Homo sapiens: one gene and its partners. The protein of the gene in region 5 interacts with the protein of the main gene of each other region in a biochemical or structural test. Each region holds a gene or a part of one and is shown on either strand. Other genes may lie near its edges.

Region 1 (5,164 bases), on a different chromosome or scaffold from region 5:
TGCACACCAGCCTGGGGGACAGAGTAAGACTCCATCTCACAAAAAAAAAAAAAAAAAAAAAGGAAACAATTTGTCAAGCAGGGTAAAAACAATGAAAGGACTGATGAAAGGGAGTACCCAAGGGAGGAAAGAACCAAAAAAGTCATCGGCAGGTTGTTTGGGTAGACATTCTGCAATCTTTCTAAGTTTGGATATTCCTTCTTTTACCAATCTAGATTTGTTTGTAAAGAAACAGCATTCTTGGCTGGGCGCGGTGGCTCACGCCTATAATCCCAGCATTTTGGGAGGCCGAGGCAGGCAGATCACCTGAGGTCAGGAGTTTGAGACCAGCCTGGCCAACATGGAGAAACCCCATCTCTACCAAAAATACAAAATTAGCCAGGCGTGGTGGCACATGCCTATAATCCTAGCTACACAGGAGCAAGAGGCAGGAGAATCGCTTGAACCCGGGAGGCAGAGGTTGTGGTGAGCCGAGATCATGCCATTGCACTCCAGCCTGGGCAACAAGAGCGAAACTCCGTCTCAAAAAAGAAAAATCAATTGAGGCCGAGCACAGTGGTTCATGTCTGTAATCCCAACACTTTGGGAGACTGAAGCAGGAGGAATGCTCAGGCCCAGGAGTTAAGAGACCAGCCCTGACAACATAGTGAGACACTGAGAAAGGAAGGACGGACGGAAGCATGAGAGGGGAGGGGAGAAAGAAAAGGGCCGGGCGCAGTGGCTCACGCCTATAATCCCAGCAATCTGGGAGGCCGAAACAGGTGGACTGCTTGAGAGTCCAGGAGTTCAAGACGAGCCTGGGAAACATAGTGAAACCCTGTCTCTACTAAAAATACAAAAAATTAGCCAGGAGCGGTGGTGCATGCTAATCACAGTTACTTGGGAGGCTCAGGTGGGATAATCCCCTGAGCCCTGGAGGTGGAAGCTGCAGTGAGCTGAGATTGCATCACTACACTCCAGCCTGGGGAACCCCAGTGAGACACTGTCTCTAAAAAAAGAAGGAAAAGAAAAAAAAAAAAATCAGCCAGTTGTGGTAGCATGCACCTGTAGTCCCAGCTACCAAGGAGGCTGAGGTGGGAGGATTGCTTGAGCCCAGGAGGTGGAGGATGTGGTGAGCTATGATTGCATCACTGCACTCCAGCCTGGGTGACAGAGTGGAACCTTGTCTCAAACTCTTATGACTCAACTACAAAAAAGCAGCTTAGGTTGGTGGTCTGGCTCAGGATCTCTTGCAAGGTTGAAATCATAAAGAACTCTTTTTGGGCTGGGCACGGTAGCTCACACCTGTAATCCCAGCACTTTGGGAGGCTGAGGCAAGCAGAACACTTGAGGTCAGGAGTTCGAGACCAGCCTGACCAACCCAGCAAAACCCCGTTTCTACAAAAAATTCAAAACTTAGCCGGGTGTGGTGGTGGGCACCTGTAATCCCAGTTACTCGGGAGACTGAGGCAGGAGAATCGCTTGAACCCAGGAGGCAGAAGTTGCAGTGAGCCCAGATTGTACCACTGCACTCCAGCCTGGGCAACAGAGCACTCCAGCCTGGGCAACAGAGTGAAACTGTGTCTTAAAAAAAAAAAAAAAAAAAAAGAGAGAACTCCTTCTGACATGAAGTACGCTATTTATCTATCCATCTATCTTTTTTTTTTTTTTTTTTTTTTTTGAGATGAGGTCTCACTCTGTCACCCAGGCTGGAATGCAGTGGCGTGATCTTGGCTCAATGCAATCTCCACCTCCGAGGCTCAAGTGATCCTCCCACTTCAAATTCCCCAGCAGCTGGGACCACAGGCATGCGCCACCACGCCCAGCTAATTTTTGTATTTTTGGCAGAGACAGGGTTTTGCCATGTTTCCCAGGCTGGTCTCCAACTCCTGAGCTCAAGTGATCTACTCGCCTCGGCCTCCCACAGTGCTGAGGGATTACAGGCGTGAGCCACTGCCCATCTATCTACGCATCTATCCAATCTATGTACCTATCTAACCTATCTATGTGTTTCTCTATTATGTAGTTATTTTCAGAAAGGGTCTCATTCTGTCACCAAGGCTGGAATGCAGTGGTGCAATATTGGCTCACTGCAGCCTCTGCCTCCCAGGCTCAACTCAAGCGATCCTCCCACCTCAACCTCTCCAGTAGCTGGGACTACCAGGCTCCTGCCACCACAGCTGACTAATTTTTATACAGATAGCGTTTCACTATATTACCCAGGCTGGTCTCAAACTCCTGGGCTCATGCAATCCTCCCGATTCAGCCTCCCAAAGTGCTGGGATTACAAGCATAAGCCACCTCCCCAGGCCTAAATACAGTATATAGAAAAAATTAAAAAATAAAGAACTCTTACAATTCAATAATAAAAAGACAAATAATCTAATCCAATTAAAAAATGAGCAAAGGATGTGAGTAGGTATGACCCTGCAATTCTATTCCTAGGTATATATCTAAGAGAAACAAAAACATATGTCCACATAACAACTTGTACCTCTACATGAATATTCATAGCAGGATTATTCATAATATATTGTCAAAAAATGTAAAGAACCCAAATATCCAACAACTGATGAATATAATATATCCATACAATGGAATGGAATATTATTCAGCGATAAAGGATAAAGTACTGATATATGCTATAGTATGGATAGATCTTGGAAATGTTATATAAGTGAAAGAACCCAGTCACAAAAACCAACATGCATGATTCCATTTATATAAAATTGTCCAGAATAAACAAATTCAGAAAGAGAAAATAGACTGGTAGTTGCCTAGGGCAGGGACTTGGGGGTGGAGAGAAATGGAAAATGACTAATGGAATACTGGAGTTTCTCAGGTAAAAAGATTTTTCCAAAATTATTGTGGTGATGGCTGCACAACTCTATGAATATACTATAAACTATTGATTATAGTATATATAATTCACACATTTTATTTATTTTGAGACAGGGTCTCACTCTGTTGCCCAGGCTGGAGTATAGTGGTGCGATCTCCACTCACTGCAACCTTAGCCTCCCCAGGCTCAAGTGAACCTCCAATCTCAGTCTCCCAAGTAGCTGGAACTAAAGGTGCATGCCACCACACCCGGCTAATTTTTTGTATTTTTAGTAGTGACCGGGTTTCACCACGTTGCCCCAGCTGCTCTCAAACTCCTGAGGTCAAGCGATCCTCCTGCCTGTCTCTCCCAGTGTGTTGGGATTACAGGCGTGAGCCACCGCACCCAGCCCACAGTATATATAATTCACACTTTAAAAAGGTGAATTGTAAGATATGTGGATTATATTTCAATAAAGCTGTTACCACCACTCTCGCCCCCAGTGGGGGGAAAAAAGAGAGAAATCTGCAGATTCCTTCCATCTGGCAGACAGTGATGGTCAACCATCCCAATTCCCGCCCTTCCCTCCTAGACCATACTTCGATTTTTAGCTATGTACTTTGTTGTAGACTACACTTCCTAGCTTCCCTTGGAGACATGGCCATGTACCATGAGATGTGAGAATCAGCAGTATGTTGTGGGACTTCCAGAAAGTCTTTCTTAAAGGGAAGTCTTTATTATCCTCCTCCTTTCCTGCTGCTTAAATCTAAAGTAAGGGCTGGTTTCTAAGCAGCCATCCTGGTATGTGAGAATGAATGCCATACCGTGGGGCTGGAAGAACCAAAAGGTAAAAAGGAGCCTGGATCTCAGGTGATCTTGGGAGCCACCATCTCAGCCCCAAGACTGCCTACCTTCCATGTTTCTTCCATATGAATGAGAAATAAATGACTGTCTTATTTAAGGTGGTATTTTTCAAGTCTCTGTTACCTATAGTCAAACTAATCCTAAATTATATACACTCAGCTGGGCATGGTGATTCACGCCTGTAATCCCAGCACACTGGGAGGCCGAGGCGGGCAGATCACGAGGTCAGGAGTTTGAGACCAGCCTGGCCAACATATGAAACCCCATCTCTATTAAAAATATTAAAATTACCCAGGCGTGGTGGGGTGAGGCAAGAGAATCGCTTGAACCTGGGAGGTGGAGGTTGCAGTGAGCCAAGATCATGCCACTGCACTCCAGCCTGGGTGACAGAGACTCTTGTCTCAAAAATAATAATAATAATAATAATAATAATAATAATAATAATAATAATAAATACTCATTATCAAAACTATATTGTCTAAAGGGTATGTTCCCCAACCAGAATGGATAAGACAATCCACAGGGGTACCAGAAGAAAACTCAGAGGGCAAACAACGACAAAAATAAACAATGAAAACAAAACAAAAAAACTCAGAGGGCTGACAGTGCTGCCATTACTCATTTGTGAATTCTCAGGACAATATTACATACAGCAGTGAATACGTGTGTGTGTATATATATAGATACAGATATTATAGAATTTTATCCAAATCTACAAAATCTAGTAACTTTTTTTTTTTTTGCAAAAAGGGAGTAAATTGAAGATACTACTAATCATGAAAGCACAATAAGAAGCATATCGATGATAGGGAAATGTGCTCAATGCATATCTTCAAACAAGAGCATGCAGTCAAGGCTAGGAGTAATGGCTCATGCCTGTAATGCCAGCACTTTGGGAGGCTGAGGTAGGCGGATCACTTGAGGTCCAGAGTTCAAGACCAGCCTGGCCAACATTGTGAAACCCCGTCTCTACAAAAAATATAAAAATAAGTTGGACGTAGTGGCATGTACCCATAATCCCGGCTACTCGAGAGGCTGAGGCAGGAGAATCTCCTGAACTCAGGAGGCAGAGGCTGCAGTAAGCCGATATCTCGCCATTGCATTCCAGCCTGGGAAACAAGAGAAAAACCCCGTCTCAAAAAAAAAAAAAAAGTTAGCTGGGTTGGTGGCAGGCACCTGTAACCCCTGAAAGGCTACTCAGGATGCTGAGGCATGAGAATCACTTGAATTAGGCAGGCGGAGGTTGCAGTGAGCTGAGAACGCGCCACTGCACTCCAGCCTGGGCAACACAGTGAGACTCTGTCAAAAAAAAAAAAGGATTGGCATGGTGGCTCACGCCTGTAATCCCAGCACTTTGGGAGGCCGAGGCCTGTGGATCACGATGTCAGGAGTTCGAGACCAGCCTGACCAACATGGTGAAACCCCATCTCTACTAAAAATAGAAAAATTAGCCGGGCATGGTGGTCCGCACCTGTAATCTCAGCTACTCAGGAGGCTGAG
Region 2 (3,497 bases), on a different chromosome or scaffold from region 5:
TGAGCAGCTCTCTAGCTACCTGGAGTCCCCAGGTTGGCAAGTGGATTAGATTGAAACTCATGTTTTCCAGCTCCCAAGTGGGGTCATCATCTACCTCCCACCACTGTATTCTAACCCATCGAGGGAGACCTGTCCCTGACCCAGAGATTAGGAATTTCAAGCTCTGTTGTCGCACAATTGGTGTTTTGCCAGAACATGCCTGAGCAAGCCCCCTGTCCCTTTGCTAGATGCCTCGGTTTCCAGGGAGGTTTGGGGGCCCTAGAGAAGTGTTTTTGGACTTAATGGCTTTTCCTCAAATCCCCAATACGTCTTTCCTGGCAGCCCCACCATGGCTGCAATCCGAAAGAAGCTGGTGATCGTTGGGGATGGTGCCTGTGGGAAGACCTGCCTCCTCATCGTCTTCAGCAAGGATCAGTTTCCGGAGGTCTACGTCCCTACTGTCTTTGAGAACTATATTGCGGACATTGAGGTGGACGGCAAGCAGGTGAAGGCAGAAATGCCCTTCCCACCCCACCCTGAGACCCCGCCCCCCAGTCACTGAATGACCTAGTATGTCCTTCCCCATTCCTACCCCTGTCTTTGCTTCATTCTCCCTGCTGGAACCAGTAAAAGTTAGGAAGTAAATCTGCAGTCTTAAAAAACCTGGATATACTTTCTGGTTCTCCCACAGACTGGCTCTGTAACCTGGGCCGAGTCCCTTTGCCTCTGGGTTTAAGCTCCCCCACCTGCAAAATGGGGATGATGGTAAGACCTCCCTCAAAGGGTTGTTGTGAGAATTAACCAAAATAATGGTGCTCACAGTGGCAACTCAAGGGTCAAACACGTCTTAGATTTCTTTAACAAACTGACCTAATTTATGTTGTGGGACAGTGATTAATATAATGCCTGGTGCATAGCAGGTGCTCAAATAAAGAAGTTCAGTGAGCCCGAAGGACAGTGGTTTCAGGGGACCTTTGGGTGGCAGGGTTGGGGCCCTCAGGCCAGCTACTCACTGGCCCTGTGTGTCAGGTGGAGCTGGCTCTGTGGGACACAGCAGGGCAGGAAGACTATGATCGACTGCGGCCTCTCTCCTACCCGGACACTGATGTCATCCTCATGTGCTTCTCCATCGACAGCCCTGACAGCCTGGGTGAGGGGATTGGAGGGAGGGGACTGAGAACCCCTTGGAATCAGCCAGAGGTCTCGTGCCTTGGCCTGTCTTCAGTCATCTTCAGAGGTGGGGGTGGGGATGCAGGGGAGCACTCAGGCCCTGTTGGTCTCCTTTACTGTGGTAACTGGCCCTCTGAGGGCATACTACTGTTGAGGTTTTGAGCTGTGAAAGGGACCATCATGCTGAATGGCTTCTAAGACTGCTCTGGGAAGATGAGGGCCCCCCCAGGGGAGCTTTCTAGCTTAAGTGGAGGCACCGACACCTGTTGGTGCATGTCTACACAGAAAACATTCCTGAGAAGTGGACCCCAGAGGTGAAGCACTTCTGCCCCAACGTGCCCATCATCCTGGTGGGGAATAAGAAGGACCTGAGGCAAGACGAGCACACCAGGAGAGAGCTGGCCAAGATGAAGCAGGTGGGTACGGCTGCCAGGCTGGAGCCCCTGGGGAAGAATGCACCCTCTGAGGGGTTGCAGACGGGCAAAGGGAACTTCTCTCCAGCTACTGCCGTGTGTTAGGGGAAACAGTAATATCTCCTGGTGAGGGAGGACCCATAGGGTTGTGTCTGATGAGGTATCAGAATGAAGTGACTTGTCCAAAGTCACTTGGCATTTTTATTTATTCCAGTTAATTGTCCATTCCGTTCAGAATTGGGACTATTAAGATGATTAAGAAAATCTGCCCTCGGGGAGACAGCTTATGTTTCACTTGGGATACCCAGGCTGTGCCATCAGAGTGCCCCTGGGGGAGGTGTAGGGATGTGGATGCGGGAATGAGGGCAGGCATTGTGTAAGTGGCTGGAAGAAGGGATGTGAGAGCTGGCTTATTCAGGGACCTGTAAGTGGCTCTCTAGCCAGAGGACTAGAGTTTATTAGAGAAAGCTGTCAGGATAAGAAATGCAAAGATAATTATGGCAAAGTTTCAAACTGGGGAGATGTTAGGTCTGTGTGTTAGAAAAATAATTCTGACTGGAAGAGAGTGAGGATGGAGGCAGAGCAGTCAGGAGGTGGGAGACGCTCATTCAGGCAAGAGAACCAGGGGCTGTGTGTGGGAGGAGGTGGGGCTGCATGGGAATGGAGGGAGTAGACTGGAGGGATTTTTGGATCCCTGGCCACGAAGCTGCCCAGGGTAGCTGGGGCCTGGGCGCTTTCTGGGTCAGGGCTGGAGAAGGAGGCATTTGTTCCAGCTGCTACACTTATGGGTGAGGCAGGAGAGGTTCATGTAGTCAACAGCTTCCTTTGACCCCTCATCTTATGTCTTCTCAGGAGCCCGTTCGGTCTGAGGAAGGCCGGGACATGGCGAACCGGATCAGTGCCTTTGGCTACCTTGAGTGCTCAGCCAAGACCAAGGAGGGAGTGCGGGAGGTGTTTGAGATGGCCACTCGGGCTGGCCTCCAGGTCCGCAAGAACAAGCGTCGGAGGGGCTGTCCCATTCTCTGAGATCCCCAAGGCCTTTCCTACATGCCCCCTCCCTTCACAGGGGTACAGAAATTATCCCCCTACAACCCCAGCCTCCTGAGGGCTCCATGCTGAAGGCTCCCATTTTCAGTTCCCTCCTGCCCAGGACTGCATTGTTTTCTAGCCCCGAGGTGGTGGCACGGGCCCTCCCTCCCAGCGCTCTGGGAGCCACGCCTATGCCCTGCCCTTCCTCAGGGCCCCTGGGGATCTTGCCCCCTTTGACCTTCCCCAAAGGATGGTCACACACCAGCACTTTATACACTTCTGGCTCACAGGAAAGTGTCTGCAGTAGGGGACCCAGAGTCCCAGGCCCCTGGAGTTGTTTTCGGCAGGGGCCTTGTCTCTCACTGCATTTGGTCAGGGGGGCATGAATAAAGGCTACAGGCTCCAACGTGTGTGGCAGCTTTCGGTCTTTCCCTCTGGGTGCTTGGTGTCCCATCTCTTTTCATGTCCAAGTTGCTTGCCAGCCTGGCCCCCTGTCTACAAAGCAGGCCAGTGGCCAGCAGGGTGGAGTCTTAGAGCAAAGGATGAGGTCATGCCTGGCTCTGGGCCAAGGAGGCGGGTGAAGGGAGTGGTCTGTAGCAGGGGGCTAAACTTAGAAACCTGTGGGTGGCTTCCCTGCCACCTCCCACTGGGTTTCCTCCCCCGAGTGTGGGGGCTGGGTTCCTCTCCAGCTGGGAGGGGATGTGACCCTCAGCAGGGCTGAAAGTCCCACCCTTCCCTACAGGGTCAGCTTAGGGGCTCAGGAAGCTGGGGCCAGGCAGAGGAGACATTATCAAGGCTTTTGCATAGAACAAGATTTTGTTTTCAGAGTTTTCTTCCTTCCCCTTCCCCCAATTGTTAGCAGCTTGATGTGTCATTCTCCCCAGCAGGGGAGGGGGTGGAATGGCT
Region 3 (5,164 bases), on a different chromosome or scaffold from region 5:
CAACTGTAGACATCTGTAGAATCCCAGATTTAGTCTCTCACTTAAAAAAAAAATTTGAAAATTAGGTAAAAAATGTCCAGTGGCACTTCTTAGTGACCATATCCTTTCTTAGTGAGTTAATAAGGCTATAGTTATGAAATGCTATATTTAAAAAATATCAAATTTAGGAGAATAAAATCTAGGATCATGCATGACCAAAAACTATGATATTGTGTGAAATGTACTTAACTGAATTTTCACTGTTTTCTTCAATGGTAGCACACCTGGAAAAAAGCCTATTCTTTCAACACCATCATGGTTTAACCACAGAATACATTTTTGCATTTTGAAAATACAGGCATGAAACAATTCTAAATACTTACAGAATCCTTTCCAGTCTTTTTCTTAGGCGATTTGTGTTTTGATTCTGATCTTTGTCTAGTTCTGTCTTTTTCACTTTCCCGATCTTTTTCTTTTTTATCCTTCTCTCGCTCAGCATCGGATTCTGGAGAGTCCTGTATGAATAGAAAATAACAGGTTAGCATTTTGATGAAGATACCATTGTTATATAGGTAATATTTAAGAACATCTATGTGTAACAGGTTATGTGCTCTTAGAGAGATGAAATAAAATGTGAATTGTTAACCTCAAGGATTTAGTAAAATTTACCCAAGATTCATGGGGACAGCTTTCCCTTGGGAAGGATAATATTCTGAAGGATAAAATACCACTCATGAGACTTACTACCACATAATAGATGTGTAGTATCTATTATGTAAATACAGACAGATACTACATTTCTCACCAACTCAATATAATATTGGTTTATATATGTACATAGTATACTGCTGTTAGCTTTAACACATAAGGCAGACAGCTGTATTAATAAAATTATTTTCTTGAAATTGCTGAGTAGGAATTATTTAAAATTTAACGTTAGTGCTTAAATGGTTATTCATTAGATATGCACAAATTCAAATAAAAAGAATGTAATTCAACAGGTCTGTGGTGATACCCAGGCCTTCAGATTTTCAAAAAGTTCCTTAGGTGGATCTTAATGTACACCTAAGAATAAGAACTGCAAGAGTAGAGTGGTTGTTTTAACATTTAAACTTGTGGTTCTCAACAACAGCTGCAATCTACACATACACACAAACATACATACATACACAGAGACACATGCACACACACGAGTCTCTTTCTAGAATATTAATTTTAAAGACCAGGATGGGGATCCTAACACTGGTGTGTGTATTTTTTCAAAGCTCAACAATTGATTTTAATGGAAGATTAAGGTGAAGAGCAACAACAAAACTCTAAGTTTATGTGCCCACCTGAACTGTCCTGGGCTGCAGAGAACTAGATAGAAAAAGGTTCTATGATCTCTGAGGAAGTTAAGGGCAAAAGCCTAGGTGAAACGTAAAAATTAGAAGCTTGCTTACAGATTTATGTCTCCTCTTCTTACTTTTCTTCTTATGCTTTTTTGACTTTTTATAACTTCTCTCTGAGTAGCACAAAAGGATAAAAAGTGTCAGACTTTGAGTATATCAGTGTCAATGATTTAATCAAATAAATAGAAATGCTCACCAGACTCTGCACTAGAAGAATGTTCTGAAGCAGAACGAGACTCTGATCGCTGTCTTTTTTTCTTTGAATGGCTATCATCATCATCTGAATCTGACCCCTAAAAAACACAAATAATTTCATTCATAATAATGCTAACACTTTAATACACTCATGACACCATATAATAAATTCCCTTACCGATCGAGAGCGGGAACGTTTCCTATGATGTTTTTTAGATTTCTTAGAATGTTTCTTGTTCTTTGAATGATGATGCTGACATTCATGCTACGGGGACAAAAAAAAAATTTCAAGAATTTACACTTACTGTAGACAGACTGTAAAGAATCTTTAAAAAGCTACGGAAGTAAGTTCTTAGAGTAAAACTCTACAATATATAGAAATGTAATCCCTTGAAACTGTGAAGAATTGTCAATTTTTTTTTCTTTTCCTTCTTGCCCATCCTATACCCACTCATTTAGACATCTAAACAAAACAATGTTAAAAACTGTTAGTAGAAAAAGTAGGGCTTTTTTTGTTTTTGTTTTTTTTTGAGACGAAGTCTCGCTCTGTCACCCTGGTTGGAGTGCAGTGGTGCGATTTTGGCTCAATGCAACCTCCGCTTCCCAGGTTCAAGCAATTCTCCTGCCTCAGCCTCCCAAGTAGCTGGGATTACAGGTGCACACCACCACGCCCAGCTAATTTTTGCATTTTTGGTAGAGGCAGGGTTTCACCGTGTTGGCCAGCCTGGTCTCAAACTCCTGACCTCAGGTGATCCACCCGCCTTGGCCTCTCAAAGTGCTGGGATTACAGCCATGAGCCACTGCACCCAGCTGAAAAAGTTTTTGTTTGTTTGTTTTTTTGAGATGGAGTCTCACTCTGTCACCCAGGCTGGAGTGCAGTGGCGTGATCTAAGCTCACTGCAAGCTCCGCCTCCCGGGTTCACGCCATTCTCCTGCCTCAGCCTCCCGAGTAGCTGGGACTACAGGCGCCTGCCACCATGCCCGGCTAATTTTTTGTATTTTTAGTAGAGATGGGGTTTCACCATGTTAGCCAGGATGGTCTCGATCTCCTGACCTTGTGATCCGCCCACCTCGGCCTCCCAAATGCTGGGATTACAGGCGTGAGCCACTGTGCCCAGCCTGAAAAAGTATTTTTTAAGGAAGAGAATGGTGTGATTTAGAAGAAAAGTGTAATATGCAGTGACATCTGCTTTTAATGACAGTCAAATACAATGACACTCAGACATGGTTTTTGTAATCAATCTGGCTTTGGTCAGCAAGTTAGGCCAAGCACTAAGATAAAGAACAACCTGAGAGCCATCCTTGAATTGAGATATATAAGGCTGATGTCAGAATAAATGCAAAATCTGCTACCCCTCTTTCATTTCCCCCAAGGAGCCATTTCCTTCCTCCTCAAACAAGACATTGTTAGACATCCATATGCTGTCTTTGTGGATTTCTACTTATTAAAACAATTACTAGGTTAGCAGTGATGGGGGGTGCTACAGTACAAGCTCCTTGCCCCTAAACATTTCTATGGCTTTGAGAATAAATTCTACCTCAGTTACAGAAGTGGAAATGGAAAATCTGGATCTCAGAATGGACTATTCTCCTTTTGATCTCACTGAATGCTAACCTACCTTTCTTTAATACCTCAAGCCTCAGATTATTAAGGCCCCAAAATCTGAATGTGTTCAGCCCTTCCCTATGGTACCATTTTTACTCCATTTACCACCTAACTACTTTACCCCCAGTATAGATCATGAAAGAATCTGTAGACTCTTGAACTGGGGGAAAATAGGTTAGTCACTATCTAGAGCAGAGCTTCTCAAAATTAAATGTATATTTTAATGCTTGGGAATCTGGTTAAAATGAAGTCAGACGCAGGATTTCTGCCCCATGGGGCCTAAGGTTCTGCATTCCTAAGAAGCTCCTAGGTAATGCAGATGCTTCTGGTATGCACTACATTTGGCACAGAAAAGATCTAGAGGCCCAGCATGGTTGCTCACACCTATAATCACAGTACTTCAGGAGGCCAAGGCAGGAGACTTGCTTGAGGTCAGCTTGCCCAACACAGCAAGATCCCATCTTTATAAAAACAAAAACCAAAAAAGCCCCACAAAAAGCCAAGTGTGATGGCACGTGCCTGCAGTTCCAGCTACTTAGGAGGATTGTTTGAATCCAACAGTTCAAGGTTGCAGTGACCCATAACTGCACCGCTGCACTCTGGCCTAGGAGTGGATGGATGACAGAGACCCCGCTTTAAAAAAAAAAAAAAAAAGGCCAACAGGACCACATCTAGAGGCAGCTGTGAAACAATACAGGGCCTTCGTGAGTACATGGTACAGAAAAAACTGTGGTTAACATTATATTAATCAAGAACAATAAATCAAGAAATAGGAAATAGTCAATTTAGTGACCTATGCCCATTTACAATGCAACACTGTAATATTAAGCACCTACTAGTTTTTAGCTTATAAAGTATTAGCTACTCTAAAACTGACAGCATGGCATACTTGTTAAAAGCACTGACCAAGGTCAACATGCCCGGCTTCCAACCCTGTAAGTCACTTTACTTCTCTCTGCCTTAGTTTGTTCACCTATTAACTTCACAGGCTTATTGAAAGGATTCAGTTCATAAATATAATATACATAAAGCAATTAGAACACTGGCCCACATAGGCATCGAATACTATTATTCAATAATTATTGGTCAATTCAGCATACTTACAAGGGCCTAACTGAAACTGTCATCAAAATACTTTTTTTTTTTTTTTTTTTTTGGGGAAGGAGTCCCGCTCTGTTGCCCAGGCTGGAGTGCAGTGGCATGATCTTGGCTCACTGCAACCTCCGCCTCCTGGGTTCAAGCAATTCTCTTGCCTCAGCCTCCTGAGTGGCTGGGATTACAGGTGCCCGCCACCACTCCCTGATAATTTTTTTGTATTTTTAGTAGAGACAGGATTTCGCCATGTTGGCCAGGCTGGTTTCAAACTCCTGACCTCAGGTGATCAGCACACACCTTGGCCTCCCAAAGTGCTTGTTTTACAGGCGTGAGCCACCGTGCCCAGTGAACCTTACCTATTAAAGTGACCTGAGATGTTATTGTTTCATTGCTTATTTTAACAAAAACTTACCATTTATTCCATTACTTTCCAGAAACTTTCTTTTCTACACAGCTAATGTGGTATAATACCTCAAATGTGCCTAAAAGCTGTCTTCTATCTGCTTTACAAGAAAAATTTCAAGTTTTCTTTATTAGTCAATCAATCCATGTGGCTGCCAAACTGCTCAATTTCTAAAACTTTCTAAAAATACAAAACAGTCTTCACATACAAATCTTTATATTCCCATGGAAACTTAATAGTTTCTTTTACTTAAAAGCAGTTTTTATAGGAAAAAAACCATTCTCTAACCATCCAGGTAAGTACATTTGTATAAAAGCAGTGAATATTAAGCAACATACTTTCATCATTCTAAGTTCTTCAATTTGTTTATATTTTATATATTTTGTATATGAGAATTCTAAAATTACCTCAAGCACATGCATAAAATCTTTAAATATTCGTTTTCTTTCAGATTCTAGAGTTATGTCCTCAAATGCTGGCTCTTTTACAAATCTC
Region 4 (5,074 bases), on a different chromosome or scaffold from region 5:
ATAGCTGTCAGCATAAATAGGGTGTGGTTTCAAGGCCTTCAGGGATCCCGCCCCTGTCCAGGACCTGCACAGCAGTTTGAACCCAAGGGTGGGCTTTGAGGTCCTGAGCCCCAGCAAGCTTGAGGCTGGGCTTGGGGCTTCCCAGCACCACCCCCCACCCCTCACCTGCCAGGGCCCAGCTAGGCTGCAGCGTCTCCTCGGCAACCGCAGCACCAGGACCGGCTGGGAGCGCCCAGACTGCTGACGTGCTTCCCGTTACCAGGGAAACCAGGAATCCTGACTGGTCCAAGAGGCAGTACTAAGGGACAGGCAGTCCCAAGACCCTGCTGCTGGGCAACCAGACACAGCAGGGCTGGGAGTGGGCGTGGTTACGCCAAGGTGGCTGCACACCTGACGAGAGTTATTCAGGCAGGGTGCTTCACCATCCTCAGCTTCCAAATGACGTGGGCCCACAGACACCCAAAGAGGAGGGGCTCTTGCCCATCCACCTTCTAGGCAGCCATCACCGCCTCTCCTCACCCCCACTTCCCCCTAACTCACACTCTATGGAATAAGGTTTTCAATAGGCACCTGAAACTTAGCTGAGGCTCAGGGAATACCTGCTGTTCCCTAGAGACCCTCCATTGCCTCAGGACTCTCCTGCTAAAACCTTCCAGGAACAGCACCCTAGGGCCTCCATGCCCTCCACAGCCACAGCCTGCTTCATGAGGGCTGGCTGGACACTTCTGGAATCTGGGGACCAGTTCACCATCTCCTGACTGAGTCACACACACCAATCCATCTGCCATCCCTGTCAGCCTGTACCTTCCTGCTTCAAAGAGCTTCATCCTTCCGATCTGTCCTGGAAGGGCAGTTTCTCCCCCCTTGGCCATCTGGGAGGCCCTTCTGGAGCTTGGCACATCTCCCTCCAAGCGCAGCCCACCCCGGCCTTTGCTTTCACACACATGCATTTATTCCAGAACGCACACCTTCACTCCTGCATCGATTCATGCGACACTTACATATAAAATACATTAAATGTTCACGTATCATTCCTTCCTTCCTTCATTCGTTCATCCACAAATGCCTTAGTGGTGAAGCCAGGTGTACTCACTTGCTCAGGAATCAGTGATTGACTTAAAGCTTTCCCCTTCTCTCCACCCCACATAACTAACATAGCCCAGGCTACTAGCTTTTTTTTTTTTAACCTGCATCATTGCAAAAACATCATAACTGGTCTTTCTCTTCCTATCTGGTCTCCTCCAATCTCAGCTGCACAGTACAGCCCAAATGATTCTTCTGAGATGCTAAACTAATCAAGTAATTTTCCAACGGAATCCTCTTAATTGTTTTGTCACTGCCCTCAGGATAAAGTCCAAATTCCTCCCCAGGTTTTATGTGCTGTCATGAACCCCTGTCTGCCTCTCAGCCTTACCTCCAGCCACTCCCCTTCTCTCTCTTTGCTTGGGACATGCCCCCTTGTCCTCTCCCAGCCCACCTCCCTTACTCTCGATTTTCACCTGGCTATCACCTACCTCTCCTTCAGACATCAGTATACAGGTCCCTTCTTAAAACTGACCCATTGCCCTCTCCCCCACCACTCTCACAGGCAGGGTCAGGGGCCCCTCCTGTACTTCCCCAGCCCCAGAGAGCTCATCGCACTGATCATAACCACTTGTTTCTTTCTTTGTCTCCTCACCAGGCTGTGAAGGCCAGGAGGTAAGAACATCTTTGCCCCATAGTATACATTTCCAGCATTTACGATAAGGCCTGGAGCAGAGTATGAATTCAATACAGGTAGTAAAGTTTATTCATTCATCATTCATTTAATTCATGAATTCATGCATTTATGCATTCAATCCATAGCTCTATGAATATCCTACAATAGGAAGGAGAATATAATTTTTGCTCAATTCTAGCCTCATTTCTGCAGGAGCACAAACCTTCTCTGCAGCCCTCATGGTCATAGCAACACAGTTGTAAAAGAGTGACTTGGCCCCTTTCCTGGGCTGGCCCCCACCTCTATCCTCAATTCACAATGTCTCCACCAGTGCATGATCCTTGAGAATCCTCTTGCCACTCCAACATCCTTGCTGAGGTCACTGCCCAGCAAACCCGCCCCAGCTCTTCAGCAGTACTATCCCCCTACTCCTAGAAGCTTCATAGGTAGTTCAGAGTTGCAGCCCCCACAGTGACCATCCCAGGGGCAAGTGAGCAACTAGGCCTCTATTTGGTCACTGACTCACACCCCCTAGTCTTGCAAACTTCCAACCTACAACCTGCAGACTGATGCAAGCCTCAGATAGATTGTGTGTGGCCTGCACAGTGCTTTTTAAAAAATAGAATTTGTTGTTAACGTTTAGAAATTGGGCTATTTTACACCAATATCTAGTTTTCAGTTTCCCTTTAACTGGCTGCATTGAGACTATATTTTTCCTCACCCCAATCCCAAAAATAATCAGCTGGAGTGCAGGAGGGGCTGTTCCTTTTAAAAGGAGTTGAGACAATGACCACCAAAGGCCACTAACATCACAAAAAAGAGAGGCAATCAGACTTTGCCTTTAGTAGAAGTATTTTTTTTTTTTTTTTTGAGACGGAGTCTCGCTCTGTCGCCCGGGCCGGACTGCGGACTGCAGTGGCGCAATCTCGGCTCACTGCAAGCTCCGCTTCCCGGGTTCACGCCATTCTCCTGCCTCAGCCTCCCGAGTAGCTGGGACTACAGGCGCCCGCCACCGCGCCCGGCTAATTTTTTGTATTTTTAGTAGAGACGGGGTTTCACCTTGTTAGCCAGTATGGTCTCGATCTCCTGACCTCATGATCCACCCGCCTCGGCCTCCCAAAGTGCTGGGATTACAGGCGTGAGCCACCGCGCCCGGCCTAGTAGAAGTATTTAATACCACCTATGAAATATTCTTGCAAAAGCAAAACACAAAAATGCTCAAATCTGAATCTGATCAAGGCTCTAGAACTAACTACCAATTTACAGGAAATCCAGGGGAAGAGGAGCATGGTAAATATGACCACAGGAGAGAGTCTGAAAAATCCAAACCATAGAAAACTCAGGACAAGCAACATGATTCTCCAGTTAAAAAACAAAAGCAAAACTGCAAACAACAACAACGAAAAAAATAGAAGGGGAACTTGATCAAACATAACTTTAACAGATAGATCAGGCCAGACATGGTTGCTCACACCTGTAAGCCTAGTGCTTTGGGAAGCCAAGGTAGGAGGATTGTTTGAGAACAGGAGTTCAAGACCAGCCTGGGCAACATGGTGAGACACTGTCTCTACATTTTTTTTTTCCTTCTTTTTTTTTTTTTTGAGAAGGAGTCTCGCTCTTATTGCCCAGGCTGGAGTACAATGGCTCTATCTCAGCTCACCACAACCTCTGTCTCCCGGGTTCAAGTGATTCTCCTGCCTCAACCTCCCGAGTAGCTGGGATTACAGGCGTTTGTAACCACGCCCAGCTAATTTTGTATTTTTAGTAGAGACAAGGTTTCACCATGTTGGCCAGGCTGATCTCGAACTCCTGACCTCACGTGATCCACCTGCCTCGGCCTCCCAAAGTGCTGGGATTACAGGCATAAGCCACCATGCCCAGCCAATGTTTGTGTTTTTTGTAGAGACAGGGTTTCACCATGTTAACCAGGCTGTTTCTGAACTCCTGGCCTCAAGCAATCCACCCACCTTAGCCTTTCAAAATGCTGGGATTACAGGCGTGAGCCACTGTGCCCAGGCTCAATCCAGCCTTTTTTTGGCAGGATATTTAATGATATTAAAGAATTATTATTAAATTTTTGTAGGTACAATAATGATATTGTGGTGGGTTTTTTTTTTAAGAGTTTTATCTTTCAGAAATGCAAAAGTAAACTGTTGTTGTTGTTGTTGAGAAAGGGTCTCTCTCTGCCATCCAGGCTGGAATGCAGTGGCTCAATCATGGCTCACTGTAGTCTCGACTTTCTTGGGTTCGGATGATCCTCTCAGGTCAGTCACCTGAGTAGCTGAGACCACAGTGGCTGATGCCTCCACTCCCGGCTAATTTTTTTGTCTTTTTTATAGAGGAGAGGTTTTGCCATGTTGCTCAGACTGGTCTTGAACTCTTGGGCTCAAGCAATCTACCCATTTTAGCCTTCTAAAATGCTGGGATTACAGGTGTGAGCCACTGCACCCAGCTGTAAACATTTATAGATAAAAGTATTTGCTTCAGAATAACCTACGCTGGGCCTAGGAACGGAAGAGAGCATGCAGGTAGCAAGATTAGTTATGTATTGATAATTGGTAAAACTGGCTCGTGGGTAAATCAGGCTCATTATTCTTTTCTCTCTATTTTTGTGTATGTTTGAAAATGTCCAGAATGAGTTTTTCGAAAGGGGATGGTGTGCAGCCCTAGGCTCATCTGAACTGCATGTTCTCCACAAAGATTGCACAGTTTGGGGTATGGGTATTGTGTCCGCCACCTGGTAAGGATAGGGGTCTTTCCTAATCTTTCTTAGACCTCCATCTACAAAACTCCAGGGTTTTGGTTGTAACTATAGCCCATTATCTCCACTCTTTGTTCCTCAGCTTTTCCTGTATTCGCTACACGACATTAGAAAATGTGGAGACTCAGCTTAATTTAAATGGACATATTTAATGATTAAGCCCTGGAGTCCTAGTATCTATTCTCCTCCCCCTACCCAAAGGGTTTTCTTTTCTAACTTTTAGTCAATATCCTACTCCTGACAAAACTGTATCCTTGCAATGGTGCTGGAGCATGTGGATTATAAGCACACAACATTCCCAGTCTTTCCAAACAGACCTCTGTGGGGAGCTGCTGGCTGCTCCCAACAGGCGTGACCTGTTAAAACGGGGCAGACTGGCGACAGAGTGAGACTCTGTCTCAAAAAAAAAAAAAACGGGGCCGACTGTCCCAAGTGCACCTGAGTGCATTGTGCTCTATGCATTGGCGGCAGCATAACACGGGGCCAAGAGCTCAGGCCTGGACTGAGACCTGGTTTAGATTTCAGCTCTATTGTAATCTCAGCCTGTCTGTGGTCTCGAGAAAGCTACTAAACCTCTCTGGATCTCTTTTTTGTTATCTGTAATATGGGAATCA
Region 5 (5,164 bases):
AGATTCTTAAGAAAGATATATAAACAGCAAGTAAGGACAAGAAAAGATGTTCAACATCATTAGGGAATGACAAATTAAAGCATACTGCAGCTGGGCACAGTGGCTCACGCCTGTAATCCCAGCACTTTGGGAGGCCCAGGCAGGTGGATCACCTGAAGTTAGGAGTTCAAGACCAGCTTGGCCAACATGATGAAACCCCATCTCTACTAAAAATACAAAAATTAGCTGGGTGTGGTGGCAGCCTCCTGTAATCCCAGCTACTCAGGTGGCTGAGGCAGGAGAATCCCTTGAACCTGGGAGGCAGAGGCTCCGGTAAGCCGAGATTATGCCACTGTACTCCAGCCTGAGCGACGAGAGTGAAACTCTGTCTCAAAAAATAATAAATAAATAAATAAATAAATAAAGCATACTGAGATATCATCACATACCCACTAGAATGGCTAAAATTTAAGACTGATCATACTAACAGTTGACAGGAAATTGGAACTTTTACACATTGCTGGTAAGAATGTAAAATGAAAACAGTTTGGAAAACAGTTTGAAAACAGTTTGGCAATTTCTCAATTAAGCATAGATCTACCAAATGACCCAGTCATTCCACTCATGGGTACTTACCCAAGAGAAATGAAGACATATGTCCAGCCCAAAAAGTTGTATGAGAATGTTCACAGACAAAAACTGCACTCCCAAAACTGGGAACACCCCAAATGTCCATCAATAGGGTAAATGAATAAACAAATTGTGTAAATCCATACAATGTAATAGTACTCAGCAATATAAAGGATTAAGCTATTGATATATGAAAGACCACACATCACAATAAAAGAAGCCCCAGCAAAAGGGTTCATACTGTATGATTCCATTTATATAAAATTCTAGAAAACACAAACTAATCTATAGTTACAGAAAGAAAATTAGTGGTAATCTGGAGATGGGAGGACGAGGATGGGTGAGAGGGAGGGATAACAAAGAGAGAAGGAGGAAACTTGAAGGTGACTGCTATATTCATTATCTTGACTATAGAAATGGTTTCATGAATAAATATGCAGTTTATTGTATTTTAATTATATATCAATAATGCTGTAAAAATAGAGATGAAGGGTATCTTTTCTACTTGATCTTAAAGTTCTGACACTGAAAATAAAACACAGACAGATCTGAGATGTAAGGCCAACTACCAACGTATGCTCTTTGGTTTTCTGTGACCTTCAGTATCAAAAATGGTTTATAAATCATCCTGTCTTGGGTCCTTACAGTATTTTAAATCTTAAAAGAAATTACAAATCCAAAGCCTTCAGATGACACTACTCACAAGACAGGAAATAAGTCACAAAATCAGAAATCCAGAAAATTATACAGGACACCATAAATTCTACCTATATTTGCCACCCTAACAAAATTCCCAGATAGCTACTAAGGACCAGTCATATCCACCACCAAGGATGGAATTTTCCCATCCTCCATAAGAGAATGTTTCCTTTAATTCAATTCCATTATGCTAACTCTCATTTGCATCCCCTTATCTGTTCTATCCCCCGCCTTGGAGGAAAGAAATTTAAACAAATATTTAAAGGGCAAACTGACTCTCCCTAACTGTTACAGAGCCAAGCAATAGAGAGCCAATTTCTTCAATCTTTTTCCTTTCAATCTCACAGCTTCTAGTATATCTGTTCCTTTTATATAATCTCTTTCTACTACTCCAGCCATTCCCAAGATCCTAAAATTTAGTAAAGAAAATGTAGAATCCAAAATTTCTGCTCCTCTTCCTCCACTTGTTCATCCAATTTCCACCTCTTAGCCCCCTGATGTTTCCAACCTACAACTGCAGAAGTGACTGTTGCACTGAGTGGGTGTTTGGACTTGATGACATTTAAAGTCCCTTCCAACTCTGAAGTTTTAAGGGTACCATTCACAGTAAGATTTAATAATGGATGGAAGTAAGAATTTCAAAGTTGAAAGAACAATGAGAGTTATCTTGTAATCAGTGGTAAAATTCATTAAAATATTAGTCTATTTCTCTTTTCCTTCAGTAATTCTTTTACTTCCTTAAAAAGGGTTTCTTGATCCTAAGAAACGTGTTAAAAAAAAGGAGAAATACAGTAAAATATGTTCATAGTAATTATTCTTTACTTTTCAATTTTAGCTTAAAAGTTTTAAGAAATTTTATTATCAACAGCTTCTGACTGCCCCTAATTCCCCAAAGGCCTGGCTATTCATAGCGCTCAAATCAGCCCCCACGTAAGTAGGAAAGGAATAAAAACACAGGGAGGAGGTGACAGGCAGCCAGGCAAGGGGAGAGTGTGGCTTTGTCTCACCTAACCCCAAGGAGGGGCAAACATCCAATGCTTTGCTGGTAGCATAAAATGAATTTTTTGCCTACTGCTTTCAAACAAAGGTAATTGAGAAAAGGAGGCTCAATGAAAAAAGAAAACCACTTAAGTAATACAAAGTTTGTTTCAAAATGGGGATGATTTTTGTAGCCATAAATAATTTCAGCTACTGGGACATAAAAAGGGATATATAAACCTGCATATACAAACTCTTTGCTTCTCTATAACATCTAGTATTTATCAATAAAAATTATTTTAACCTGTTCTTCTAAATCATATGTGACATACAACTTATCTTTTAAATCTCTATTACATTTCATGGAAGATATATAACACTCCCTGAGAATAGCCTGGCAATACATTTATAAAATACCAAGGGCCTTGGGGAATAACAAAAGGTGATTCTAAGACACAGGAAATAAAATTATTCTGACCCGTGCACCCATCAACAAAATTAAATCATGTCTCACTATTTTCTTAGCTTTCATAATAAACATAATTTACGGGTCATAAAATTTTCAGCTTTTTAAAAAAATTTACCAACTCTCCCAAGGCAGAGATTTTAATTCTAAGGCATTCCCTCACTTTCACCTCCTGTGAGGGAGAATTTTCTTTGAAAAAGTACAGGTAACCATACCAAGTAGACTCATGATCTGTCCTTAAGACAAGGCAGGAAGAATGGCGGAAATCTTTAAGCTACCATTCTGTCATCTCAAACATCTCACTAACGTTCCTGTAGGCTCCCCTCCCTCTTTCCAAACTATATAATCCTTGCGTTCATCATCTGTTAAAAAAAAAAAAAGGTGTACAAAGCGCTCTGTATATTTTTCAGTTTTCTGCAAACTTTTGCAAAGCTCTCTGTATATTTTTCAGTTTTCTGCAAACTTTTGGATTAAAGTTAATGTTTTAAGAGGATATAAGCAGAAATCTGCACGAACAACTCCACTTCTTTCTGCCTGGCATCCTTTAATTTGTCTCCTTTTGGACAGGAGTCTACTACTAAACATTTATACTCTATTACTTTGCATTTAGAAGACCGTGTAACTGCAACATGATCATAACTCAATATAGGAATCCAAAATTAAACTAATTTTAATAATTTTAATAATAGTAAAAATCATTCTCTTGGCCGGACGAGGTGGCTCACGCCTGTAATCCCAGCACTTCGGGAGGCTGAGGCTGGCGGATCACGAGGTCAGGAATTTAAGACCAGCCTGGCCAACATGGTGAAACCAGTCTCTACTAAAAATACAAAAATTAGCTGGGTGTGGCGGCGTACACCTGTAATCCCAGCTGCTTGGAAGGCTGAGGCAGGAGAATCGCTTGAACCCGGGAGGTGGAGGTTGCAGTGAGCCGAGATCGCGCCACTGCACTGCAGCCTTGGACACAGCAAGACTCGTCTCAGAAAAAGAAAAAAAAAAAAAAAAAAAAAGGGCCGCACGCGGTGGCTCACGCCTGTAATCCCAGCACTTTGGGAGGCCGAGGTGGGCAGATCACGAGGTCAGGAGATCGACAACATCCTGGCTAACACGGTGAAACCCCGTCTCTACTAAAAATACAAAAAAAATTAGCCAGGCGTGGTGGCAGGTGCCTGTAGTCCCAGCTACTGGGGAGGCTGAGGCAGAAGAATGGCATGAACCCGGGAGGCGGAGCTTGCAGTGAGCTGAGATTGCACCACTGCACTCCAGCCTGGGCAACAGAGCGAGACTCCATCTCAAAAAAAGAAAAAAAAAATTCTCGCTAATGCTCCTAGTTAAATCAGGAAGCAATATTCTCTCTTACAATGCATCACTTTCTCGATTATATGAGAGTGCATACAAAGTCTATTAAATGTAAGAATACTCTGCAGCCTCCTAACATCCCGGTTCTACTTATTCCCCTTACGTATATTTTGGAAATCAGTCTATTTGACACCCACATTGATCACTGCTGAAAAGTCAGAAAACCCTCTGTTCACCTAAAATTTTTATTTTCCTTCATCTTAAGGACTTGTGAAAGGAAATGGAATAATGCCGGAGAAGGGGTATGCTCATGGCCCAGGAGAAGACAGACTCATGAAGAACCAAGGGGTAATACCAGGCAGCCTGGCTTCAGCCACTCACTGTCAGCACGTCTAACAATCATGTGTTTTTAAAAGATGATGCCCAACCACTTTTAAACTGAGGGTCCATCTCCTTTCCACACAAGATGCCTCAGAGGGTAAGAGCAGATCTCAGACAATTTGTGAGCTCTGTGTTCTCACCAGTTAATCCGTATTTAGAACCTGCATAAGCCAGGAAAGGTATGTAGCAGCTAAAGGAATTATAAACCCTCAAATGCAAACAACCTTCGGGCACACTTAGTCCAAACCAGTGCAGTTTTATACAGTACATTCTTAATGGAGTTCCAGAGGACACATACTCTAGAAAAGGTGGAGGCGGCGAAAGACCTTTGAGTTCAGTTTTAGCCTATAGTTCAAGAAAACTAAGCCACGGGTATCAAAAGCACACCAGCAATCTCGCCCACTCCACCCACCCACGTATACATACACAGACACAAAGAGAAGTGGATTGCAATGCTCCTCCTCATCTCTCATTTCCACAGAGTTCTCATAAAAGGAGCAAGAGGAAGAAAGAATATTCTGATGCCTTGAGATAGGTTACATTTGGCAATAAAAGGGTTAAGCAGCACTACTTTCCTAGAAACCTTCCAATTCCGTAGCTACTAATGCAATTTTCCTCATTACCTGAGCTATTTAGTTTTAAAAATTCAGCAGATTAAGGGTTAAGACTAACACCGCAGAAAGAAAAGAGAACTTGGTTCAGCTCCATCCTCTCTAAAGCAAATACCTACAA
Region 6 (5,164 bases), on a different chromosome or scaffold from region 5:
GTATATGTGCCACATTTTCTTAATCCAGTCTATCATTGTTGGACATTTGGGTTGGTTCCAAGTCTTTGCTATTGTGAATAGTGCCGCAATAAACATACGTGTGCAATGACTTTCTTCACAGAATTGGAAAAAACTACTTTAAAGTTCATATGGAACCAAAAAAGAGCCCGCATCGCCAAGTCAATCCTAAGCCAAAAGAACAAAGCTGGAGGCATCACACTACCTGACTTCAAACTATACTACAAGGCTACAGTAACCAAAACAGCATGGTACTGGTACCAAAACAGAGATATAGATCAATGGAACAGAACAGAGCCCTCAGAAATAATGCCACATATCTACAACTATCTGATCTTTGACAAACCTGAGAAAAACAAGCAATGGGGAAAGGATTCCCTATTTAATAAATGGTGCTGGGAAAACTGGCTAGCCATATGTAGAAAGCTGAAACTGGATCCCTTCCTTACACCTTATACAAAAATCAATTCAAGATGGATTAAAGATTTAAACGTTAGACCTAAAACCATAAAAACCCTAGAAGAAAACCTAGGCATTACCATTCAGGACATAGGCGTGGGCAAGGACTTCATGTCCAAAACACCAAAAGCAATGGCAACAAAAGCCAAAATTGACAAATGGGATCTAATTAAACTAAAGAGCTTCTGCACAGCAAAAGAAACTACCATCAGAGTGAACAGGCAACCTACAACATGGGAGAAAATTTTCGCAACCTACTCATCTGACAAAGGGCTAATATCCAGAATCTACAATGAACTCAAACAAATTTACAAGAAAAAAACAAACAACCCCATCAAAAAGTGGGCGAAGGACATGAACAGACACTTCTCAAAAGAAGACATTTATGCAGCCAAAAAACACATGAAGAAATGCTCATCATCACTGGCCATCAGAGAAATGCAAATCAAAACCACTATGAGATATCATCTCACACCAGTTAGAATGGCAATCATTAAAAAGTCAGGAAACAACAGGTGCTGGAGAGGATGTGGAGAAATAGGAACACTTTTACACTGTTGGTGGGACTGTAAACTAGTTCAACCATTGTGGAAGTCAGTGTGGCGATTCCTCAGGGATCTAGAACTAGAAATACCATTTGACCCAGCCATCCCATTACTGGGTATATACCCAAAGGACTATAAATCATGCTGCTATAAAGACACATGCACAGTTTTTCTTATCCTAGACAGTTTTAAGAAGGACAGGCCTTGGCCGGGCGCGGTGGCTCACGCCTGTAATCCCAGCACTTTGGGAGGCCGAGACGGGTGGATCACGAGGTCGGGAGATTGAGACTATCCTGGCTAACATGGTGAAACCCCATCTCCACTAAAAATACAAAAAAAAAAAATTAGCCGGGTGTGGTGGTGGGTGCCTGTAGTCCCAGCTACTCGGGAGGCTGAGGCCGGAGAATGGCGTGAACCTGGGAGGCAGAGCTTGCAATGAGTCAAGATCATGCCACTGCACTCCAGCCTCGGCGACGGAGCGAGACTCCGTCTCACAAAAAAAAAAAAAAAAAAAAAAAAAGCAAGGACAGGCCTTACATCCTACGATGTTTCTCATTTTGGGTCTGTTTGGGTCTGTTTAGTGTTTCTTGATGACCATGTTCAGGTCACGCTCTCTTGGCAGGAATCATAGAAATGATGCTGTGTTCTTCGCATGCATCACACCAGGGGACACATGATGCTGACTTGTCCCAACACTGTCAGTGACCTTAATCACTTGGTCACCTTGGTGTCTGCCAGGTTTCTTCTCTGTAATGTCACCTTTTTTCTCTTTATAATTGATAGTATTTTCAGGGGACATATCGTAAGATTATGCCAATATCCTATTTCTCGTCAAGTCTTCATCCTCAGTTTTAGCATCCATTGATGAATTCTATCTGAACCAAACACCACTATTTTGTTTTATTTCCATCTCTGTTAGTTGGCATTCTATGTAAGAAGAGCTTTCCTTTTCCTGTCATTTATTTATATCAGCATAGACTTGTAAAATCCCACTTTATTCAGCAGGTTGTAATCAGTTACTGTCATTAAATATTTTATTGCTCATACTGTCCCAGTTTGTCCAGTGGGAGCCCTTTCAAGGAGGTTCCTAGGTCTTCGTAACAAGTCCCCATCATTCTTTGAACACTTTCTGGCAGAAGTTGTTCCAGGCTTCTCTTGTATTTTGCTTGGCTCAGCTATCTACAATCAGCCATTTTCCCTAGAAGCACTGGTCCTATTTAGTATAAAATGGTTTTTACATGCTACAATTTGGGTACTTGGTGTGCTCATTGTTACTGGGATATACTCTTGGACCATCTCTGAACAGTTAAGCGTGTGTGTGTGTGTGTGTGTGTGTGTGTATGTGTACTCTACACACATATATAAGTATACACAAAGATCTATAGCTATTTCTATATCAATCTGTAAATACATAAATTTAAAAATCATGAATTCATACTGATTTTTTCCAATTCAAACCTAATACCTGAGTTCCTTTATAGCCATAAGTACCTTTTCTAACAGTGAAAAAATTTGACTTTTATTATCCTTAATATATTTGTTCATTGACTTATGTGTTCAGTGTAACTAACTTCCTGACCACGCAGACATCTCCTCTGCCACTTCAGCTCTTCACATCCTTGGATGCCAGTGGGAATATTGCTATTCTCTATGCAGCATCCCTGTGCAACGCCGTCCTCCCCTCCTCAGTACCCTTGCCAGTGGGCACCCTTCTGATGCATCTCTGTATGGTATCTCCCTCCTCCCCTCAGTGCCCCGTGCTGGCGAGCATGCCAACCATGCACCTCTGTGAAATTCACCCTCACTCCACAGACATTTTCTGTAGTGGCCTGTGATTGACTGCTCTGCGCCAGGAACAGAAAAGGAGAAGGAACTATAATTTCTTTTATAGGTAATTAGGAATTCATATATCACATAGGAGTAGAATCTTTGAGCTGGAAGAGACCTTGTAAATAAATCATTTAGGGTGAGCAGGGGTATAGAAAATGGGATTCTTTTGTGTTGGAATTCTGGCCCTGTCACTTACTTGGTGAATCTTGCATAATTAAACATCAGTCAGAGCAGGATATTTAAGTCTGCTGATTCTCCCATCCCCTTGCTGTCTCAGAAATATTCTATAGCATTTGGAGACATGCAGGAACCAGTTGAACACAATTGCTTCTCAATCTATCATGGTTATCTACTCCAGAGCTGAATCTTTAAGTCAGATAGCTGATTTGAATTGCTGAACCCATTGTTCTGCTGAATTCTGTGGCAATTGATGTTACTTCTTCTTTAGGACTTCTATTTCTTCTGGCCTCCTTGCCAATAGTATCAAAGTTTAAGAGGATAAATGAATGGGGAGGGGATAGGAGAAGTCTGGAGATAAATGCAGGGAGAAAGGCACAGCACAAACAAAAAGCATTTTGATAAGGCTTTTCTGAAAGTTGAGTAAATATGTCTGTAGCCCATTATTATAACTCATGGCTGGACTCAAATGTCTGGCTTCAACTGATGCGAGACATGTTGGGGCAATGAAGAGAGTAATATGAACAAACAATCATGGCCGTCAATAAAGATGCTTTAGTGAAAGTATTCTCCTTTGGGAAAAAGAGTCAACCTAAATAAATAGCAACTGCCTTTAACTGAATACCCACTCTGTGCCAGGCACCAGGTTAGATTTTTTCATACTTTAGCTGTAATCATCACAACATTATTGCAGAAGTAGGAAGTATTACCCCCATTTTAGAGATAAGGAATATGAGATTCTGATTTGTTCAAGAACCTTCTCCCAGTAGGGAGAAGTGTTATATTCATAACAAACACTTGGTCCTTCCACTTTCCTGCTACTAATACGCAAATAAAATAATTTAACAGAAGAGACTTTTTCTCAGGAATATGATGAATGTGAATGGAATGTGTGCAAAATTAACTTGTAATTGTTATGCTCTCATTTCCACATCTTCTGTCTTTTCTTGATAAAGCTTTTAGGTGGACCTCTGAAGTACTTGATTTCTGTATTTGCTTAACAAATATTTGATGAACACTATGTATCAGGCACGTGGGTCAGGGCATGAGGTATAATGATATAGAATATACTTTACCGATTTTATAGCCAAGAGGGAGAGAGAAACATTAAATAAATTATCACACATCAATATTTTATAAGTGTTATTAAGGAAAACAGTGTAAGATGAAAGTATTTATAACAGGCTGGGCGCAGTGGCTCACACCTGTAATCCCAGCACTTTCGGAGGCTGAGATGGGTGGATCACTTGAGGTCAGGAGTTCGAGACCAGCCTGGCCAACATGGTGAAACCCTGTCTCTACCAAAAATACAAAAATTAGCCAGGCATGGTAGCATATACCTGTAGTCTCAGGTACTTGAGAGGCTGAGGCAGGAAAATTGTTTGAATCGGGAGGTGGGGGTTGCAGTGAACCGAGACTGCGCCACTGCACTCCAGTCTGGGCAACAGAAGAACACTCTGTCTCAAAAAAAAAAAAAAAAGTATATCTAAAAATTAATTAATTTTATATGGTGTGGAGAAGGGAGAAAATATCAAGGAAATTGAAACTAAGGATGAATAGGAGTTAGCAGGTGAAGAGTGGGGCAATAGAACCCCATTGAGTAAATAGAACCACATGTGCAAAAGATGGGATGGAGACGAACAGGAAGGTTGGAGTGCTAAAACAAGAGGCACAACGTCAGCAGATGAGGCTGGAGAGGATAGCCTGATCAGGCAAGCCTGGCATGCCGTGTTAAGGATTTGGAATTGTATACCAAGTAGCATGGAAATCAAATGCACGCACGCGCGCGCACGCACACACACACACACCATTGTCGTCATCATCAACATTATTTTTCATAGTTAATATTTGTTCCTCATATGCTTAACATTTGTTTGCTAGTTATTTCTTTATTTCTTCTTGCTTCTTCACCTTTCCATCTAGGATCACTTTTTCTGCCTAAAATATATCACCTAGAATTTTTTTTTTTAAGAGATGGAGTTTCACTCTTGTTGCCCAGGCTGAAGTGCAATGGCGCAATCTCGGTTCACTGCAACCTCTGCCTTCTGGGTTCAAGTGATTCTCCTCCCTCAGCCTCCCGAGTAGCTGGGATTACAGGCGCCAGTCACCATGCCTTGCTAATTTTTGTATTTTTA

The links.
Region 1: the proteins of DIAPH1 (region 5) and RHOA form a complex in vitro, tested with the Homo sapiens proteins (2 studies listed by BioGRID and IntAct, with this or other methods).
Region 2: the proteins of DIAPH1 (region 5) and RHOC form a complex in vitro, tested with the Homo sapiens proteins (one study listed by IntAct).
Region 3: the proteins of DIAPH1 (region 5) and PRPF40A form a complex in vitro, tested with the Homo sapiens proteins (one study listed by BioGRID).
Region 4: the proteins of DIAPH1 (region 5) and APBB1 form a complex in vitro, tested with the Homo sapiens proteins (one study listed by BioGRID).
Region 6: the proteins of DIAPH1 (region 5) and NEDD4 form a complex in vitro, tested with the Homo sapiens proteins (one study listed by BioGRID).

What each region holds. Positions count from the first base shown.
Region 1 is NC_000003.12:49,376,605-49,381,768, forward strand, and holds part of RHOA (transforming protein RhoA isoform 1 precursor), read right to left. Parts: intron 1-5,164. UniProt on the Homo sapiens protein: Small GTPase which cycles between an active GTP-bound and an inactive GDP-bound state.
Region 2 is NC_000001.11:112,700,631-112,704,127, reverse strand, and holds the end of RHOC (rho-related GTP-binding protein RhoC precursor), read left to right. Parts: intron 1-321; 5' UTR 322-328; coding exon 329-484; intron 485-1,008; coding exon 1,009-1,129; intron 1,130-1,434; coding exon 1,435-1,565; intron 1,566-2,414; coding exon 2,415-2,588; 3' UTR 2,589-2,997; downstream 2,998-3,497. UniProt on the Homo sapiens protein: Regulates a signal transduction pathway linking plasma membrane receptors to the assembly of focal adhesions and actin stress fibers.
Region 3 is NC_000002.12:152,657,527-152,662,690, forward strand, and holds part of PRPF40A (pre-mRNA-processing factor 40 homolog A), read right to left. Parts: coding exon 5,077-5,164; intron 1,831-5,076; coding exon 1,744-1,830; intron 1,664-1,743; coding exon 1,567-1,663; intron 1,484-1,566; coding exon 1,422-1,483; intron 495-1,421; coding exon 363-494; intron 1-362.
Region 4 is NC_000011.10:6,405,222-6,410,295, forward strand, and holds part of APBB1 (amyloid beta precursor protein binding family B member 1), read right to left. Parts: intron 443-5,074; exon of another isoform or gene 1-442. UniProt on the Homo sapiens protein: Transcription coregulator that can have both coactivator and corepressor functions. Adapter protein that forms a transcriptionally active complex with the gamma-secretase-derived amyloid precursor protein (APP) intracellular domain.
Region 5 is NC_000005.10:141,611,697-141,616,860, forward strand, and holds part of DIAPH1 (protein diaphanous homolog 1), read right to left. Parts: intron 1-5,164. UniProt on the Homo sapiens protein: Actin nucleation and elongation factor required for the assembly of F-actin structures, such as actin cables and stress fibers. Binds to the barbed end of the actin filament and slows down actin polymerization and depolymerization.
Region 6 is NC_000015.10:55,982,959-55,988,122, reverse strand, and holds part of NEDD4 (E3 ubiquitin-protein ligase NEDD4), read left to right. Parts: intron 1-5,164. UniProt on the Homo sapiens protein: E3 ubiquitin-protein ligase which accepts ubiquitin from an E2 ubiquitin-conjugating enzyme in the form of a thioester and then directly transfers the ubiquitin to targeted substrates. Specifically ubiquitinates 'Lys-63' in target proteins.